Linked DNA regions of Homo sapiens. The protein of the gene in region 1 purifies or fractionates together with the protein of each later gene. This does not show direct contact. Each region holds a gene or a part of one and is shown on either strand. Other genes may lie near its edges.

Region 1 (3,203 bases):
ACCCTTGGTTTAGGTGCACTAAATGGCATCTTTGACTTTTCTATGAGTCTATTAGAAGATGATGATACTGTAAAACATTGTAGAACAGTTTTGGAAATGGTTTCATGATTTCTGGGGGTACTGTGGCTTAGGGACTCACACTGCTTCCTTTAAGTACTAGCGTGCTTAATTATGGAAGACAATCTAGAGGAAATGGATGAAATTAAACTAGGAGAGTTTTAAAAACTCTTTGTCTAGGTAATAGTTGCGAGGGTGAGTCTAGATTTCTGATCAGGAAAAAAGCTGTGGCTTCTTATGGTTCACACATTCAGTTCCTTGAAGGCAGGAGCAGGACCCATAGACAATTTGTAAAGAATCATTTCTTTTTGCTTCTGATGCTGGTTCTGATAACAACAACTTTTGAAGTTTTACGTATACAGGCTGGGTGCGGTGGCTCACGTCTGTAATCCCACCACTTTGGGAGGCCAAGGCGGGTGGATCACCTGTTAGGAGTTTGAGACCAGCCTGGGCAAGATGGTGAAACCCTGTCTCTACTAAAAATACAAAAAAAAAAATTAGCCGGGTGTGGTGGCGGGTGCCTGTAATCCCAGCTACTTGGGAGGCTAAGTCAGGAGAACCTCCTGAACCCGGGAGGTGGAGGTTGCAGTGAGCCAAGACTGCACCACTGCACACCAGCCTGGGCAACAAGAGTGAGGCTTCGTCTTTAAATAAATAAATAAATAAATAAATAAATAAATAAATAAATAATGTATACATATAAATGCCTGGTTTGAAGATAGAGGCAGCTGGGTTGGAAAGATTTAGGATGGTGGCATTTGAAATATTGTTTTGTTCAGTTGCTTTCTGTCTTTAAGAAGTGACAACATTTAAGAGAGAAAGAAAGAGTCATTTTATGATAACATTCGAGTTCTCAGCAGACCAGAGACTGTTTCCCTAAACCTTCCTCTGGCCACTGTGGATCACTTTTTGATTTTGTGGGAACACTCTGTAATTTTCTTAGATTTGGAGAAAAGCCGGCTCTAGAACTGACGATTTCAGAGTAACAGTATTAGGAAATGTGAGGGAAGCATTCATATATGATTTTGTGTGTTATAATCAGGGACCAAAAGGTGTTATACACATTCACACACTTGAGATAGGGAATTTCATTGCCTTATACTGATGCTTTTAATATTTTGGAACTTGGAACGAGTCATATTTATGAACACAAAGAAACATTCTGTTGCCTGGGCCTTAAGAGTAGGGTGGAAGTAGAATCCACGTATGTTTTTCAGTCACTGATGTAGGTAAGTAGAAAATTTCCTTTGGGCACATTGATGTGTACCCATTACCCTCATGCTGTGGTGCTGGGCTTTCTAAACTACACCAGCTGGCTGTCAAATAGTAGGCATTCCATTCAGCATTATTGAAATTGGATTGAACTCTGCCTGATTAACTCAGTGCTGTTATGCACAGTATGACTTGAGTTGATACTTTGCTGTTGACTATGTCTCTTTTGTTGTGGTTTCAGAACTTACTCCAGCAAAAGGACTGTAAACATGGATTATCTGTCGCTTCTAAGGGATGCACTTGTACAGCCCTTGACCTCACAAGGAGTAGACGGAGTACAGGATGTTGTTGCACTTATGGACACATATTATTTGATGAAAGAAGACTTTGAGAATATCATGGAAATCAGCAGCTGGGGTGGCAAACCTAGTCCCTTTTCAAAGCTGGATCCCAAGGTAAATCATGTCACTCACTGGTTCTTCGTCACTTTCTATTACCAGGTTTGTACTGACAATACTTCGGAGGTGTTTTAGATGCTTTAAGATTTACTTCTTTTTCCCCTCAAATGCTTGTTGCTTCTTATGGCCTATATTTTCCAAAGATACTATTTGAATGCAGTATTAAGAGTAGACTTCTGGGCTTGACTTTACAATTTGTATTTTTATCTTTGCTTTATGCTCAGTGGAAAAGCAAGAAGTGAAATTTGAGGAGCAAATATAAATATATTCTTTATAAAGGATGAGTGGATGAGTCTAGGGAATTAAAAGTTGAGCGGTGAGCTCTGGTGGTAATGGGTTGTAAAAATAAAATATGTTTATTGGCTGAGGATTTGTACAAATTTTCTTTTTCTTAGTCTACCTAATCTGTGGATTCAGTATTTATTCCAGTTGGATAATCTTCTCTGTAATAATGTATCCCCACTTTTCTTATAATGAGACGAAAAAAACTAAAGTGATACATCATGAATATGTAACATCCAATACCCAACTCTTGCACCTGTGTAATGAATGCGTTTTAGAAGACATATTCTCTGTAGTTTGCCCTCCCCAGAATTTTGACCCGACTTTATGGTTATCAGTAAATTCTCACAGCAGACATCCATTGTTAGAATTCATGGACTAATTCAGGAATTATGTTTAGAAGCTTGAAGGTAAGACTTTCAAGTTACTTAGTATTTTGAAGTAACTACTCTTATTATGGAAAAGGTATCTAGTGTTTTGTGGAAATTAAAGGCCAACTTATATCTTGTGATGAGCTCCCCCAACCTTTTTTTTTTTTTTTGAGACAGTCTAGCTCTGTTGCCCAGGCTGAAGGGCAGTGGTGCGATCTCGGCTCACTGCAACCTCTGCCTCCCGGGTTCAAGCCATTCTCATGCCTCAGCCTCCCAAGTAGCTGGGATTACAGGTGCACTCCATCACGCCTGGCTAAGTTTTGTATTTTTAGTAGAAATGGGGTTTCCCTATGTTGGCCAGGCTGGTCTCAAACTCCTGGCCTCATGTGAACTGCCTGCTTTGGCCTCCCAAAGTGCTGGGATTACAGGCGTGAGCCACCACACCCAGCCGAGCCCCTTTTTGATTTACTGATTCACTGATTAACTTTGCTTACTACTTTGTAGAAATGTGGAGAATGCTGAATAGGTAAACATGATGACTTGAAGTGACCTTTTGTTTGTTTGTTTGCCTAAAGTTCCCAAATATATATATACGTATTTTTTTTTTTTTTAGACAGAATCTCACTCTGTTACCCAGCCTGGAGTGCAGTGGCGCAATCTCAGCTCACTGCAACCTCCACCTCCTGGGTTCAAGATTCTCATGGAGAAGCATGAGCCACTGTGCCCCACCTTCAGTCTTTTTTGTCATGGGCTCTATTAAGAATGTTATGAAAAATATGGAACTTATCCACAGAAAAATGCACGTACTTAGATTTACATGTAT
Region 2 (3,500 bases), 570 kb from region 1:
GGCGCGGTGGCCTATGCCTGTAATCCCAGCATTTTGGGAGGCCGAGACGGGCAGATCACGAGGTCAGGAGTTCAAGACCAGCCTGGCCAATATGGTGAAACCCCGTCTCTACTAAAACAAAAAACAAAAATTAGCCAGGCATGGTGGCACATGCCTGTAATCCCAGCTACTCAGGAGGCTGAGGCAGGAGAATCGCTTGAAACCAGAAGGCAGAGGTTGCAGTGAGCTGAGATCGTGCCACCGCACTCCAGCCTGGGCAACAGAGCGAGAGCCTGTCTCAAAATAAATAAATAAATAAAAATAAAAATTGCAATGGCAACTCAAGGGAGAGTTGAAGCCTTCTTGTTGTTCTACAGATTTGGGTGTGTACACTTGTATGTGCACACAGAGATTGTTTACATTGTTACACATTTTCACTTTTAATCTCTAAAATTGCCATCTCATTTTAAGATGAAAATAGAAGCTCAGTTTTTCATGATCCTGGTTTCTGTCAAATTCTTGATTTAGTAGGGGCCAAGATTACCAACATAGATAACTAAAGTATTCTACATATGATGCATTCCTTTTTAAAAATTTGTTTTAGAGGACAGAGGTTTAATCATTCTTTATGAGGCTGAGTGCAGTGGCTTACGCCTGTAATCCCAGCACTTTGGTAGGCCAAGTCAGGCAGATCAATTGAGGTCATGTTGAAACCCTGTCTCTACTAAAAATATAGAAATTTAGCCAGGTGTGGTGGTACGTGCCTATAATCCCAGCTACTGGGGAGGCTAAGGCATGAAAATCACTTGAACCCAGGAGGTGGAGGTTGCAGTGTGCCAAGATCACGCCATTGTACTCCAGCTTTGGCTAGTTATGTGGTACTGCTATGCTATTAATTTTTTTAAAAATTATTGTGATTAGGAATGGGATCTCACTATGTTGCCCAGGCTAGCTGGGCTCAAGCAATCCTCCTGCCTCAGCCTCCTGAGTAGTGGGACTATAGGTGTGCACCACTACGCTCTATTTTTATCATAGAATAAGCCAAAGGCAGCCTTTTATAACACTGTTTAGAGCTGAGTTAGGGATAATGAAAGCTTTAAATTGGGGGTAATTATGTACAGTACATGGCAAAGGCATAATAATGAGCTCTTACAAGTCAGTGATACCTAGGCAGGACCCCCAGTGGAGATGAAGTTTAGCTATTATCAGTTTACTTTTAAAAGTTTAACATCACTAAATGCAGTCAATACAATTTAAACTTAATCAATACCTCTTTTCATTACAAATCAGAAAGAAAAAAAAACGTTATAAGCAATCATTCCTCAGTATGATCATGGAAATGGGTTCCTTCATTACTCCTATGAGTATAAATTAGCAGGACTCTTTGGCATTTTGCATCTAGATCCTCAAAAATGTTATCCTTGACTCTTTATTTTTACACTCATAATTCATGAGTATAAAAGAATCATATGAAAGCTTATACACAAGCATGTTCCTCCAGCATTATTTTCCATCACAAAAAATAGGGGAATGGTTAACCATAGAATGAACACCCATTGGACAGATCCTAACTGGATATCATATAATATAGTATTACCTTTTGTAAGCCTCAATTTCCTCATCTTATGGAGTGAAAATTAATTGAGATAAAGCCTATAAAGTGTTTTTCACACCTGCCTGGCACGGAGTAAGCACTCACATAATAGCTATTAACTTTGATTCCTGAATGAATGCCATAGAAACCATTTGAGGCTCCCTCATTGTTACCAGTGCTCATTTTAACAATCCTGTTGTCCAAGAGTGCCAGGTTTTCTTCTCTCTATGCTTAGCAACAGTCCCAGTGGGTTCCGGCTAGCTTTCTGCATTTCGTAAAGTGGTCACAATAAATACAAAAGCCATGCTATGTTCCACATAGAAGTCGAAGTAGAAAGACTCCCATGCCATCCCATTCATTACCACATTTTACCACGTAAGTAATAAAAATCCACAGTGTCGGGGTGGGAGTGCCAAGGCTTCATAGGTTCCATTTGAAAACTTTACTCTGCAAAAGGAGATCAGCCCCAGGAACTAGTACCTAAGACAGACACTGGCCTCTTATATTTCATATCCTTTAGGTATTTGTCTGATACTTCTTCACTCTTAACTGCAGCCCTGCCATTTCAGCAGGCATTAAACTAGATTCCTGTTACATGTTTATATGCAGGAAATAGATTTTAAATGATGATAGGTGATTTTTTTTTTAATTCTTTGTGGTTTTTTTAATCAAGTTTTTTTGTTTTTTGTTTTTTGTTTTTTGTTTTTTTTGAGACAGAGTCTTACTCTGTTGCCAGGGTAGAGTGCAGTGGTGCGACCTTGGCTCACTGCAACCTCCACCTCTCAGGTTCAAGCAGTTCTCCTGCCTGAGTCTCCCAAGTAGCTGGGACTACAAGTGCGTGCCACCACACCCAGCTAATTTTTTGTATTTTTAGTAGAAACAGGGTTTCACCATGTTGGCCAGGATGGTCTCAATCTCTTGACCTCGTGATCCGTCCACCTCGGCCTCCCAATGTGCTGGGATTACAGGTGTGAGCCACCATGCCTGGCCACTTTAATCAAGTTTTCTACAATCAATATGTATTTCTCTTAAAATGAGGGATACAGCTCCTGATGTAAAGAGTTTTTCCTAGCCTTGCAATTACTATGGTTGCAAGAATAAGCAGAGTTTTTGGGTTGTGGTGAAGTATCTAAGCTAGAGTTTGACTAGAAATGAAGGCAGGTAAATTTGTAATCAGAAAGTCACAATGATTTGATTTGATTGTGAAAGTCACAATCCCCTGTGTTAAGTTCATGGACTCAAAGTAGCTTTCCCATATTTGTACGTCATTTTAAACATAAATTATGCTCTAAGGACCTTACATTCAAAAAGGGACGAAAGCATTTTTATGAATGATAGTGGTTATAGGAAATGTTTATTTCTTTTTTGTTTGTTTATAGTAAATCTGATATGTCTCGCTTGCGATTAGCTGCTGGTAGTGCCATAATGAAGCTTGCTCAGGAACCTTGTTACCATGAAATTATTACCCCAGAACAGTTTCAGCTCTGTGCACTTGTTATTAATGTAAGTAACAATCTTATTTTTGTCAATTACTTATCTTCAAAGTTGAATACATTACTTTTCTATGGATACAAATCCATTTATAATGTGAATATATGCACAAAAGTCACTACTATTATTACCTGTTTAACTGTCTTCCAATTATTACATTATTTATTCTCCCATATAATTATCTTCTTTTTAATTGAAGACACTAAAAATACTTAAACTGCTGTTTTTTATTTAATAAATGGTTGCCAATTTAAGTTTTTCTGTGCTGCTGTAGGATGAGTGTTACCAAGTAAGGCAGATATTTGCTCAGAAGCTGCATAAGGCACTTGTGAAGTTACTGCTCCCATTGGAGTATATGGCGATCTTTGCCTTGTGTGCCAAAGATCCTGTGAAGGAGAGAAGAGCACACGCACGACAATGTTTACTGAAAAATATC
Region 3 (3,185 bases), on another chromosome or scaffold:
AGGTGAGAATTCACCAATGTGGTTGTGGAGAACTGGCTTGTTTTGCCCGTTGGGGTGACTGGAAGGAGTGGTAGCACCTGGGGCTCCCTGCTCAGGCCTGATGCCACTGCTCCCCAGGGACTGTCCTGGCTGTGTTTGGCTCCGTGAGAGACGACGGGAAGTTTCTGGTGGAGGACTATTGCTTTGCTGACCTTGCTCCCCAGAAGCCCGCACCCCCACTTGACACAGATAGGTGAGCAGCAGTTCTCGGGAGCTGGAACCAGCTCATGGTCAGTGGAATCTTTGAGTTGCACCTAGGAGGGGCTGCCTCCCTTCTCGGCACCCTGGAGGACCCCACCTTCTCCCGCAGGTTTGTGCTACTGGTGTCCGGCCTGGGCCTGGGTGGCGGTGGAGGCGAGAGCCTGCTGGGCACCCAGCTGCTGGTGGATGTGGTGACGGGGCAGCTTGGGGACGAAGGGGAGCAGTGCAGCGCCGCCCACGTCTCCCGGGTTATCCTCGCTGGCAACCTCCTCAGCCACAGCACCCAGAGCAGGGATTCTATCAATAAGGTATGGAGCCCACCTGGCTGCATTCAGCCCCAGCCCAGGAGCCTGCAAGCCTGTAAGACCCTCCTTCCCCAGGGCGAGTAGGGTACCCTGTGAGGTCTCGCAGGTCGGTGGGAAGCGCCCTGCAGTGACTCTGGGGCCTCCTGCAATGGGGCTCCTCATGCCCAGGCCCTCGCTGAGGATGGTGGGAGGCTTGAAGGGAGTGAGGGTCTATGGGACAACAACTGCATCTTCCAGCTGGTGGGGCTCTACTCTCCTCTGAGCCTGGGACTCGCCTGGGCCTGATGGCCTTCTGGGCTTCTATTCCAGGCCAAATACCTCACCAAGAAAACCCAGGCAGCCAGCGTGGAGGCTGTTAAGATGCTGGATGAGATCCTCCTGCAGCTGAGCGTGAGCGAGCTGGGGGCTGGAGGGGTGATGGGGATTGCAGTCTTCAAAGCTGCCACTGGGCAACAGAAGGCAGGCAGGAGGGCAGGGGGAGTGGCCGGAGTTGGTGTAGGGGGCTCCTTCGGGGCCCTGTGAGCTCTCCCTGCCCTGTGCCTTCCAGGCCTCAGTGCCCGTGGACGTGATGCCAGGCGAGTTTGATCCCACCAATTACACGCTCCCCCAGCAGCCCCTCCACCCCTGCATGTTCCCGCTGGCCACTGCCTACTCCACGCTCCAGCTGGTCACCAACCCCTACCAGGCCACCATTGATGGAGTCAGGTAGCTGGCACAGCCACACTTCAGTCTGACCCAGCCTTTTGCCTCAGGAGGCACAAAGAAGGGAGGGGAGGGAGGGCCCAGGAAGGTGGCAGGGCTGCAGAGGCCCACCTAGCATCTGTTCCTTCTCTCTGGGGCATCCCCACAAGAGCGCCAGATGAGCTCTGGGCTGACCACTATGGGTGGCACCCAAAGCCAAGAGTCAGCTGAGCTTTGCCTTGCAGATTTTTGGGGACATCAGGACAGAACGTGAGTGACATTTTCCGATACAGCAGCATGGAGGATCACTTGGAGATCCTGGAGTGGACCCTGCGGGTCCGTCACATCAGCCCCACAGCCCCTGACACTCTAGGTAACAGGCTCAGCCATACAGGGTGGGAGCAGAGGGCCAGGAGGCCTGGCAGGACCCTGAAGTGCACAGGGTCCCCCTGTGGGTTTGCACTTGCCAGCATTGCTGAGAACTGTCTGAGGAGAAGTTCAGAGGCTTGGCACCTGCTCTGGAAGCTACTCTGGAATCTTAATTCTAAGGCCAATGGCTGCCCACCCCAACGGGCAGCAACAGCAGGGCCAAGGTCTTGTGACAATGTCTGGAGGTGCCCCTATTGTCACACTGGGGGTCTCCTACTGGCCTGCAATGGGAGGAGGGGCTGCAGCCCCACATCCTGTGCAGAGTGCTAGTGCTGAGGCGGAACCCTCCTCAGAGCTGCCCCTTCTCCTCCAGGTTGTTACCCCTTCTACAAAACTGACCCGTTCATCTTCCCAGAGTGCCCGCATGTCTACTTTTGTGGCAACACCCCCAGCTTTGGCTCCAAAATCATCCGAGGTAATTTTTGTCTTCTGGGGGCCCAGGCTGATTTGCTGATTTGCTCTCACCTGGGGACAAGGTTCACAGAGAAGAAAACCTGCATTGTGGAGTCCCCCTGGCCCTTGTGGGATGGACAGCTGAGGTCTTCTGCACAGCTGCCATTTCACTGTGGGAGCCAAGCTGCCTCGCCAGCTGGGCAGGGACTGGAACGGCTCCCAGCCTGTGTGCCTCTCAAGGCTAATCTCTGGTCTCCTATTGTCACTGCCCCACTGTGTGCCAATGGGGACTCCTGTTTATTTCTGGCAGCTTCTCTTTGAGGCAGGACTTACTTGGAACCTACAGTGGGTCCTATGTGACTTCTTTGCAGGTCCTGAGGACCAGACAGTGCTGTTGGTGACTGTCCCTGACTTCAGTGCCACGCAGACCGCCTGCCTTGTGAACCTGCGCAGCCTGGCCTGCCAGCCCATCAGCTTCTCGGGCTTCGGGGCAGAGGACGATGACCTGGGAGGCCTGGGGCTGGGCCCCTGACTCAAAAAAGTGGTTTTGACCAGAGAGGCCCAGATGGAGGCTGTTCATTCCCTGCAGTGTCGGCATTGTAAATAAAGCCTGAGCACTTGCTGATGCGAGCCTTGAGCCCTGGGCACTCTGGCTATGGGACTCCTGCAGGGGTGCCCACAGTGACCATAGCCCATGCACCCACCAGCCGGTCTCCCTCCTCCCCATCCCTGACACCTCAGAATGTGAGCAGTCCGTGCCATGAGCTTGTTTTATTGGAGTGACCTTGGCTCCCTCCCTCTGCCCCTACTCCAACACTGCAGCAACCCCATCTCTTACGAGACTGGCAGGTGGAGCAGGAGCCTCTACACAGCCTCTGGCTCTTAGGTCCCAGTCATGTTTGCACCCCCTCAAAGGGGCAGGACCAGCCCTTCCTTTCAGTGTCCATACCAGGGGCCTTCCATGTGCTGATGGGTGATGTGACTGTGGTCAGCAGGCTTGGGAAGTGCTGCTGCTGTAGCTTGAGTTGGGCTGGGGTCTTGGTAGGACGCTGATCTCAGAAGTCCCCAAAGTTCACTGTGTAGGTCTCTACTGTTGTGAAGGGGAATGCCTGGCCAGTGGCTATCTCCTCCTCTTTC
Region 4 (3,500 bases), on another chromosome or scaffold:
CATTTTAAGATGAGGAAACAGAAGCAAAGAGAGTTTAAGTAACTTGTTTAAGGTCATCCCACTGGAAGGCAGCAGTGTGTGATAGTGGAAAGAACTTGTTTACAAAGAGCAGAAAACTTGGATGTTGGCAGGGCATGGTGGCTCACGCCTGTAATCCCAGCACTTTGGGAGGCTGAGGCGGGAGGATCACCTGAGGTCAGTAGTTTGAGACCAGCCTGGCCAACATGGTGAAACCCCATCTCTACTAAAAGTACAAAAAATTGGCCGGGCATGGTGGTGGGCACCTGTAATCCCAGCTACTCGGGAGGCTGAGGCAGGAGGATTGCTTGAACCCGGGAGGCAGAGGTTGCAGTGAGCCGAAATCGCACCACTGCACTCCAGCCTGGGCAACAGAGTGAGACTCTGTCTCAAGAAAAAAAAAGAAAAAAAGAAAACCTGGATGTGAAATCTGTCACTTACTATCATGTGGCTCAAAAATGTCAGTTAACTCCTCTGAGCCTCAGTTAATTTGCTTGGATTTTTATAAGGAAATAAAATGGTACAAAAGCAAAACATTTTGAAAATCTTAGGTGATATATTCAAGAAAAAATGTAAACATGTGTCACTAAAAAGTACTAACAATGGGCCAGGCACAGTAGCTCATGCCTGTAATCCCAGGACTTTGGGAGCTGAGGCAGGGGGAGCACTTGAGCCCAGGAGTTCAGGACCAGCCTGAGCAACATAGCAAGACCAAGTCTCTACAAAAAATTTAAAAATTAGCCGGGCGTGGTGGCACACATCTGTATCCCTACTACTCAGGAGGCTGAGGCAGGAGGATTGCTTGAGACTGGGAGGTTAAGGCTACAGTGAGCTATGATTACACCCCTGCACTCCAGCCTGGGTGACAGAGTAAGACTCTGTCTCAAATTAAAAAAAAAAAAGTACTAACAATTGCTTCAGAAAAGTTGGTCTCTTTAATTTAGTATTACTCACAGAATGGAAAGAAACTTACCTCTGTAACCAATAGTTACTTCTGGAGAGTAAAATTGGAATGAGGAAGGAAATTTGACATTTAACTTTATAACACTAAAGTATTTAACTTTATTCCTGGTATTTATTACTTTCACAATTAAAAAATTAAAACACAAACAACAATCACAGATTTACCGTCTTAGAAACAAAGTCATGCAGGCGCATCCCTCCATTACTCTGTGGCGTGCCCACACTGTCTGTCTCAGTTCTTGGCTCCAGCTGCCTGCTGTTCAGGGTGGAGTCACTGTTCCAAGGTTGTAAAGTACCTAGAAAACAAGCAACTTTTAAGCTTTGTGTCTTAAGTATTTTGCTCCTTCTAAATTTTAGCTCCAATTTTAACTGGGAGATAAACAGTAATCTGTTATCATAGCCAAAAGTGAGAACTAATGGCTATGTAAAAAAACAGTTTCAAGAAAAACTAAAGTTATGCCAGTGGGCTAGCAATTCAAAGGTAAAGCATGACACAAGCAGTTCTCTGGTCCTCGGTATGCAGCAGTAAGAAACTACCCAATACATCCAATCCCCGCCTCCAGAGGGTTCTAAGAAACCAACTCTCCAAAATTTTGCTAGTTGTTTTACACAGGCCAGTTTAGTCACAAATTCAATGGACCTGTTTTCCTTCGGCTCCTGGTCCAATATGGCACAGTCTCAATAGTGGACACAGCTTCGATGGGCCCGCCATCATTGGGAACAGTCACTGTAGTTTTTGCAACTATGGATTCATTCCCCTGCAACAAAAGTAGTAATGAGGAAAGACAAACAAAGAATCTAACTTACCCTCCACTATAGGGTATTTTGGAGCAGGTAAAAAATTCCTTAGTCTTAGTCAAGACTTAAGACCCCAGTCTGATACTTTTTTTTTGAGACAGAGTTTTTCACTCTACCGCCCAGGCTGGAGAACAGTGGCGTGATCTCGGCTCACTGCAACCTCCGCCTCCCAGGTTCAAGGCATTCTCCTGCCTCAGCCTTCTGAGTAGCTGGGATTACAAGCATGCGCCACCACACCTGACTGATTTTTTTTTTTTTGAGACGGAGTCTCGCTGTGTCGCCCACGCTGGAGTACAGTGGCCCAATATCGGCTGACTGCAAGCTCCACCTCCCGGGTTCACGCCATTCTCCTGCCTCAGCCTCCCGAGTAGCTGGGACTACAGGCGTCTGCCACCATGCCCAGCTAATTTTTTGTATTTTTAGTAGAGATGGGGTTTCACTGTGTTAGCCAGGATGGTCTCAATCTCCTGACCTCGTGATCCACCCGCCTCAGCCTCCCAAAGTGCTAGGATTACAGGCGTGAGCCACCGCGCCTGGCCGACTGATTTTTGTATTTTTAGTAGAGACGGGATTTCGCCATGTTGACCAGGCTGGTCTCGAACTCCTGACCTCAGGTGATCATCCACCTGCCTAGGCCTCCCAAAGTGCAGGGATTACAGGCGTGAGCCACCACGCCTGACCTGAAACATTCTTATGTTGAAATCTGATGTTTGGCTGGGTGCAGTGGCTCATGCCTGCAATCCCAGCATTTTGGGAGGCCAAGGTGGGAAGATCACTTGAGCCCCGCAGTTCGAGTCATCCTGGGCAGCAAGGAGAGACTCCCCCTCTACTTTAAAAAGTAAAAATAAAGAAATCTCGTACCTAAGAAGATAAACATAGGTCATGGGGGTATATATTCAAGCAACTAAGACTCACTCTGACAGTTGTTTACTACATCAGAGTAATTCCATTCATAGGGATAAGGATCCTACTGCATAGAAAAACTTTAACCAAAGGCCAGGCACGGAGGCTCACGCCTGTAATCCCAGCACTTTGGGAGGCTGAGGCAGGTAGATCACCTGGTCAGGAGTTCGAGACCAGCCTGACCAATATGATGAAACCCTGTCTCTACTAAAAATACAAAAATTAGCCAGACGTGGTGGCATGCGCCTGTAATCCCAGCTACGTGGGAGGCTGAGACAAGAGAATCACTTGAACCTGGAAGGTGGAGGTTACAGTGAGCCAAGATGGTGCCATTGCACTCCAGCCTGGGCTACAAGAACAAAACTCTGTCTCAAAAAACAAACAAAAACTTTAACTAAACATCATGTCTCTCAAAACAATGCTGCAATGCTGACTCAGAGAAGTTTTAATGCTTGGGGCCAGTAATCTCTGTTACCTTGGCCTGACTATTCTTACCTGGTCTACTGCAGAGCCAATGGAACGAGTTTTCTTTACAGGTCCAGGGGGACCATCAACAAACTGTCGGCTAGTAGAGCGCTAGAAAGGAGACAAAGACCCGTAACTTTAATGCCAAGCAGATCTGAAGCACAGAAGATAAAATTATTCCATCAAACAACTTGGATACAGGTCCTGGGGATTAGGGCTACAGTAAATAACAAACAATGTGTTCTCTCTCTCTCTCTCTTTGCCTATTTCCACATGAAGAATAAGCTGTTTCAAAAGAATATGTTGTACAAAAATGCTCTCAGTGCCCTAGAAAAAATGAGCAAGCTATGGAG

What was found. The genes of interacting proteins can lie anywhere in the genome.
Region 2: the proteins of RFC1 (region 1) and PDS5A fractionate together in Homo sapiens (co-fractionation; one large-scale study listed by BioGRID). This does not show direct contact.
Region 3: the proteins of RFC1 (region 1) and POLD2 fractionate together in Homo sapiens (co-fractionation; one large-scale study listed by BioGRID). This does not show direct contact.
Region 4: the proteins of RFC1 (region 1) and RACGAP1 fractionate together in Homo sapiens (co-fractionation; one large-scale study listed by BioGRID). This does not show direct contact.

Annotation. Positions count from the first base shown.
Region 1 is NC_000004.12:39,290,160-39,293,362, reverse strand, and holds part of RFC1 (replication factor C subunit 1), read left to right. Parts: intron 1-1,510; coding exon 1,511-1,724; intron 1,725-3,203. UniProt on the Homo sapiens protein: Subunit of the replication factor C (RFC) complex which acts during elongation of primed DNA templates by DNA polymerases delta and epsilon, and is necessary for ATP-dependent loading of proliferating cell nuclear antigen (PCNA) onto primed DNA.
Region 2 is NC_000004.12:39,862,912-39,866,411, reverse strand, and holds part of PDS5A (sister chromatid cohesion protein PDS5 homolog A), read left to right. Parts: intron 1-2,952; coding exon 2,953-3,076; intron 3,077-3,338; coding exon 3,339-3,500. UniProt on the Homo sapiens protein: Probable regulator of sister chromatid cohesion in mitosis which may stabilize cohesin complex association with chromatin. May couple sister chromatid cohesion during mitosis to DNA replication.
Region 3 is NC_000007.14:44,114,180-44,117,364, reverse strand, and holds the end of POLD2 (DNA polymerase delta subunit 2), read left to right. Parts: intron 1-117; coding exon 118-232; intron 233-349; coding exon 350-548; intron 549-854; coding exon 855-935; intron 936-1,092; coding exon 1,093-1,250; intron 1,251-1,471; coding exon 1,472-1,599; intron 1,600-1,968; coding exon 1,969-2,070; intron 2,071-2,419; coding exon 2,420-2,580; 3' UTR 2,581-2,685; downstream 2,686-3,185. Other genes in the region: AEBP1 (adipocyte enhancer-binding protein 1 precursor), read right to left, coding at 3,104-3,185. UniProt on the Homo sapiens protein: Accessory component of both the DNA polymerase delta complex and the DNA polymerase zeta complex.
Region 4 is NC_000012.12:49,997,995-50,001,494, forward strand, and holds part of RACGAP1 (rac GTPase-activating protein 1), read right to left. Parts: intron 3,259-3,500; coding exon 3,178-3,258; intron 1,740-3,177; coding exon 1,622-1,739; intron 1,278-1,621; coding exon 1,147-1,277; intron 1-1,146.